Regions from separate parts of the Homo sapiens genome. Here region 1 is reported to be linked to region 2. The links are microRNA targets in miRTarBase. Many come from high-throughput screens and were not tested one by one. Region 2 holds a microRNA gene; the other region holds the end of a gene's coding sequence.

The links. Region 2 holds the annotated microRNA hsa-miR-9-5p (UCUUUGGUUAUCUAGCUGUAUGA, at 1,079-1,101, opposite strand). A microRNA usually pairs through its seed, bases 2 to 8, with sites in the 3' UTR of a target mRNA and lowers its output. Matches are read on the target gene's strand: a 7mer-m8 pairs with bases 2 to 8, a 7mer-A1 pairs with bases 2 to 7 and ends in A, and an 8mer does both.
Region 1: miRTarBase lists CARD19 as a target of hsa-miR-9-5p. Seed matches in the 3' UTR shown: 8mer at 2,499-2,506.

What each region holds. Positions count from the first base shown.
Region 1 is chr9:93,112,522-93,115,647 of GRCh38, reverse strand. CARD19 (caspase recruitment domain family member 19) reads right to left here. Exons shown (of 6, transcript NM_032310.5): 6 at 2,365-2,656. The coding sequence ends at 2,541. Among named protein-coding and RNA genes, the nearest start is that of CARD19, 18 kb to the right of the region's middle. RefSeq lists enhancers at 351-1,298, 1,299-2,247.
Region 2 is chr5:88,665,824-88,668,949 of GRCh38, forward strand. It overlaps MIR9-2 (microRNA 9-2), which reads right to left and starts at 1,116; the gene lies at 1,030-1,116. All of the region lies in intron 2 of MIR9-2HG (MIR9-2 host gene), which reads right to left.

The DNA of each region.
Region 1 (3,126 bases), not on the chromosome of region 2:
ACCCCTCCCTTACCTCTCCCTAACCCTCTCTCACCCCTCCTCACCTTCTCCCTCACTCCCTCTCTCACCCCTCCCTCCCCCCAACTCCTTCCCTCACCTCTCCCTCACACCCTTTCACCTACCTCCTTCACCCCCCTCACCCCTCCCTCACCTCTCCCTCACCCCTCCCTCACCCCTCCCTCACCCCTCATTCACCCCCCTCCCTCACCCCTACCTCACCCCCTCCCTCATCTCCTTCCTCACCTACCTCACACACCCCCTCATTCCCCTTCCTTCATCTCCCTCCCTCATCCACACCCCCTTCCTCACTACCCCTCTTTCCTTCACTCACTCTCCCTCACAACCCTCTGCATTTCACCTCCAGCTCTCCCACAACCCCTCCCTCACACCAAAGCTTTGGTAATGGGAGTTCCCTCGACCCCAGCATCTCCTACCAGCTCCTGCACAGTTCTGGATGTCAGAACAGCATCCCATGTTCAGGTGTGGTAGCTTGGAGGAAACTGCTCTTCTTACTGGGGTATCATGAGGGCTTCCTGGAGGAAGTGGCATTCCTGAAGGATGAGTTGATGAGAGGGGCTGGTAAGGAGTCCCAAGCCGAGGGAGCAGCACGGTTTTTGCCTGAACACCTGCAGCACAGGTGTGGAGGCGCAGGACACGGCCATCTGTGGGTGTAGTGTGGAAGCGGGGACTCAGGGCAGCCAGGAGGGCCTCACGTGCCCAAGGGTGCCTTCCCCTCCCCTGGGGACCTAGTTCACTGCTGGTCACAGGAACTGGTTGGCCCGGTGGTTAGCAGAGCTGGGCCTGATGGGCGGCTGAGGCACAGACATGGGCGCTTATCATTCTCCCTCCTCCAGGTTCCAGCCTCAAAGGGTGGGGCAACCACCAGGCGGGAGGCGGCAGATGCAAGAGTAGGCCTGGCTGGTGGTCGAGGATGTCACAGACTCAGCCCCAGGCTTGAGTCCAGTTGGTCAGGGATGGAGCTGGGGGTAGCTGGGCGCTGGGAGGGCAGTCCAAGGACAGTGGGGCTCAGGACCTGGCTGACATGGGCCTCGGGGGAGGGCGGTGGGTGCACACAGATGGACAGGGGAGTCAGCAGTCCTCGGGCCAGGCAGCCCCTCACTGAGGAATGACACCCTGCCCAAGCGGCCTGGGGAGTCAGGGCCTCAGGTCATGTCAGGCAGCCCTGAGGAGGTGCGTGTGTCCTCCACGGCCTCAGGTGGGGCCACCTAGGACTTGCCCAGGCCACACACTGGCCTGTGCCCTGCCTGCCTCGGAGGTTTCCTACCTTCAGCTGACGCAGTCATAGAATGTTACTGTCCCTGGAGACCCCTCCTTCACCCTCCAGGGGCAAGTCACACCTGTCTACACCCTTCACCCAGACACCTGTCACCTTCACTAAGTGTGTCTCCTTTACCCAGGCATTAAAGGCATCTGTAGCAAGGTGGTAAATTCCTAAAAGGATTTCTGAGGGGGAGGGGGTGCTGTGACAGAGCGCAGGCTCAAGGAGGAGTCCCGAGGGAGGGATCCCATTTCACAGGTGGGCAAAGGGGCTGAGACTGGAGCACAGGCCCTGGCCCCATGGCTCAGGGTGGAGGAGGGAGAGGGCAGCTAGGGCTGTCCCCCGGCCACCCCACTCAGTGGGCGCATGGCAGCCTGGCAGGTGGGAGGGCTCTGAGGCACTGGCTTTCCTTGCCCCTGGCCCTCAGTTCCCTGAAGGGGCAGGCACTGTGATGACCCAAGCAGCAGGGCTGCATGGTAATGGGATGTCATGTCCTGGAGCTCCATACTCCACCGGCAGCCTGGTTCCCACTGTCATGTGCGCTGGGACCCTGCGACTGAGCAGGGTCCCTCCAGGAGCTGCGCCCATAGCCTCGCCCTGCCAGTGGCATCGCCCCAGCATTAGGGGTTCCCAGCACCTTCTGGGGCAAAGCCTGGGTGCCTCCAGAAACCCCCTGGAAAATGCAAACTCATGATGATTCTGTGGGTTGACAAATATTCTCGTTTCCCCACAAAAAGGCTTGGGGGAGGAGCTGACAAGGGGAGGGAATCAGGTGTCCGGTCCAGGCTCAGCAGCTGGGGTGGGGGGAGTGGGTGTGTGTGTGTGTGTGTGTGTGTGTGTGTGTGTGTGTGTGTGTGGCACATGAGGTGTGAGGAGGGGGCAGTGTGGGGAACATCTGAGGTGGGGAGGCAGTGCCTGGCGGCTTATCCGAGGCAGGTGAGTCCATGTGGAGGGCGTCCTGTCTGGGGGGTCTGTGCCAGCAGCTGGATGTGGGGATGCTGGGAATACCAGGGCCAGCCCCAGCTGGAGCAGCCATAGCTGCAGTCATCTCTGAAACACCCCTGAGACTGAGGAACGAGGCAGGCTGAGAGAACCTGAACATTTAATATGGTCAGCACCTTGTAAGGTGAAGGTGTGTTTTTTACACAAATTATAAATAATGAAAAATATGCATTTAGAAAAAGAAGCAGCAGTCCCCTTGGCGGGCCGGCTCGAGGACTCTTTGGTTGAGTGGCAGGTGAGGCCCTGGGTCCAGGGTCTGTCAGAGCCCCCCTAGGTCATCTGCCAGGAAGGCCAGCAGGTAGCGGCTGACATGTCTGTCGATGATGACAGGCGAGAAACCGAGGACGCGCCGGGTCCCTGGCAGGCCCTTGGGGTCTAGAAGACAAAAGGGGAGGCAAAAGCTCAAGAACCAGTCCCAGAGGTGAATTCTGTGTTTCCATCCCTCCTGCGGGGGTGGGTGGGAACAGGCACTGGGACAGGGTGCTCCCTCCCGGTCATGGTCTCGGCTTGAGTTGAAAAGACAAGAATTAGGGCAGATTCCAGAGCCCCCAGCTCCCACCCGAGTGACCCACGGGCCTTTGAGTCCTGCCATGTGTGCCTGTGTCCCCTCACCCAGTAAGCCTCCCAGCACGACAAACTCAGGCATCACAGAAAAGGGAGACGGGGCAGGCCAGGCTGGGTGCCAGTAGAGGGGCCCTGGAAGGTTCCTGTGCATCAGGCCTGTGGCTGCTGGAGAGACCCAAGGCCCTGGGGCACGTGACCTGCTCAAGGGCCCCACATGGTTCAAGGTCACAGATGTGGCAGGGCTTTGTAACACCCAGAGTCCTGGCTGCACCCCTCCTCCC
Region 2 (3,126 bases):
CATACCCCCACCCCCCAACAGGGCTGTCTGTCATAGGCTGCCCGGCCCCGCTTTATCACTTGCCCCCGAGCGTGGGAATCGGAGCGTCCTGCCGTTCACATCTCCTGCATTCCGTTTAGCGGAATCAATTAGGCAAGACAGACCCTCAGATTCCCCACCCCCTTTCCATTTTTGTCAGGTCTATATACGTCCTAATTATTTCAGTTTGGGATGCCAGAGCTGTTTCCTGGATAGACCTGATCATCCTTAAACAAAAAGAGAGGAGGCGCACACGTGGGTTGTGGCGTAAATGTCACTTTCATTTCCAATGCTAGGCGCAGAGTAAGACAGAACATTTTTTTAACACTTTGACAAGAGGGGAGGCGATCTCGTCTCCATCATGTCTTTCTGCTTCAGTAGCTTCCTCAAGGAAACCCTCTTGGAACAGAGAAGCATCTGTCCTTGTATTTTGAATAGAAGAATAAAAATCAGCCCTTGCTTTTTTTTTTTTTTTTTTCATTTTGCCTGCTAGCTCTAAGTCCTCAGTAGATACAAATTATTAACCTTCCAGTATAAACTTTTCTGAAAGTCTAATTTCGTACAAATTGACATACAGCCCAAATACATGTAAAGTAATTTCCAAGCACAATCTTCAAATTTTGAGAGGGAGGTGCCTCCCAAAGGAACTGCCCAAGTCTACATATTATGGAATCATTTTTAAACTAGGTACCAGACATCTCTGCAACACCTTTCTAAGAAAAAAATCCCTGATATAACTTTTGCCTTAAAATAGAACAAACTGCACATGCATCTTTACTCATTATCACTATACACTTCTCCTTTGCAGCTGCAACAACCCCTCTCAAGACATATCTGGAACCTTGATATTTTAGCATGTGTGTGTCATTTAATTTTCTCTCATCCCACCTTTAATCATAAGGAAAAAAACAAAACAAAAACAAAGTTAGATTCAATAAGTATTCCTGACCTTTCTGGTTTTTACTGTCTCTCGGCTGTAGTCTTTCATTCTCACACGCTCCCCGGCGATCTTGAAGGAGTTTTTACTTTCGGTTATCTAGCTTTATGAAGACCAATACACTCATACAGCTAGATAACCAAAGATAACAACTCGCTTCCCACACAGGCCTCTGTCTTCCTCTTGCCAGACTCCAGGTCCTGATCCTTTCTGGCAGTACCGAAGAGTGGTCGTCCAGGATACTTGCCGCGCTTAAGATTCCTCCTTTTATGTAAATATGACCTGGTTTCTGTTTGTGTGTGTGCGCGGCTAAAACATCCAAACGAGATCTGTTGCCTTCAGAGTTTATTCCGAACTTTTCTTTTTCCTTTCAGCAAGTAATCTCCGGCAGCGTTAGCCAACAATTCATCTATTAATATCAGAAAATAAAACCAGCTATTAAGGTGCAGCAAGCTGTTACGAGTGAGCAGCAGCATCCGTCCCTTCACAGGCCTCTATTTGCATTGTAAATTGCTTCTTTCTCACGCAAGACTCTTTAGCCTCTCTCTATAGAGATGTATAAAGCCAACGGCAATTTCCAGCGCAGGTTAAGGAGGAAGGAAAAAAAAATCCCATTCTATAGAAGTGACAGCTGATTCAAGGATCTGTTCCTGATCCTTTTTGGTTAGGCACCATGGCTTTTTACCAAGCGGTGGCAGCTTGATTGCACATATCTTGTGTGTATGTGTTTTAGGGGGAAGATCCTCGATTTCACAGGGCTTCTAGGCTGGGAAGGAGAAGATGCCGTCTTGCTGGCCTGCTGCTGCCCCCGGTCTGAAAGAAGGAGAAAAGGGCCATCATTGGAGGGGCTTTCACTGCCAAATTGTGGACCAGCCCGGCAAGGTCAAAGGTTCGAGACCGCGGGAGACCAAGGTAATGATGATGTCATGAGAAATCTCAAGTACATGGTTATTGATATGCATCAGTGATCAGCCAACTGCCCCACGCCTGCTGCCCGAGCAGCGGCAGCGACAGCAGCAGTAGCGGCAGCATTGCAACAATCCCTATTTTCTCAATCAACATCTCTTCCGCTAGCACTACCGACTGCTCCTGGAAAAGCAACCCGCGGCCTTTTACCTCCTCCGTGCTAGTGTAGATCGTTCTAGTATCCAAAGACTGGAAGAAATCTCTCTCTAAGGACAGATAAAAGCATTTCAGATCTGGGGAACGTCTTTGCCTGCATTTTTCTTCTGGCAGATTGCATAGGCAGACAGATGGAAGGCACTTTGCTATTGCTTAAAGCAGGGCCTCGTTTTCTGGGGCTGGGAATCAGATCTGTATTACGCAGTGAGTCGATGTGTGATTACATTGACAATTTGCTCTGGTGGTGTGTTTTTAATGGCTTCACAGCTCAGTCATGTTTTGTATCTATGTACCATGGCGATAGGGCAGCATATTTTGTTCTGTAAGTTCGAACTGAATGCTCTAAGCAAGCGGACTTCATCGTGGTTTTTAAAAAATGACTACATATGTAGGGTGTGTGCGTTAGAATGCAGCACAGGTAAACCTTGCAGCAATAGTTTCTAATGCTGTACACAACTCTGCTGTAATGAAAATCCTGAGCCTTTGTCTATTGTTTTAAACATCAATTTTCATACAAAAGGATAATGTAATAGTCTTGCTTCTGAAACTATGAAAAAAAACGTTGTTACCTCGTGAAGAACACATATAAAACACCTGGATGTTAAGAGCATAACTCTGCCCTACCTTCCCCTTCTCCAACCCCCACCTTTCTTCTATCTAGAGGGGAATGTTGTTTTATTAATTAATTAGCCTCATTCCTTTTCTTAGAACTTTTCAAAGTGTGAATATGATCACTTCAAAGAGTCCTTTTCTTCTTCTCTCTCCTTAGTAATGAGTAATCTATGTCTAACTCATCTATAATACATGCAGTTGTAATATTCAAATGTCCCTCAACAGAACATCTAAGATAGTCTACATTAAATTCATATTTACCAAGGGTGAACCTTATGAACTGCTTTTCAAAATTTCAAGTTATGTTTGGTCATATTGCTATTCTTTAAAATATATGCTATTAGAGTAATCTTAATATTCATTGCACACATGACTACTTTATCACAATACTCTCAATTCTATAGATTATTTTCCCCAACAACTAAAACACTTTTGGA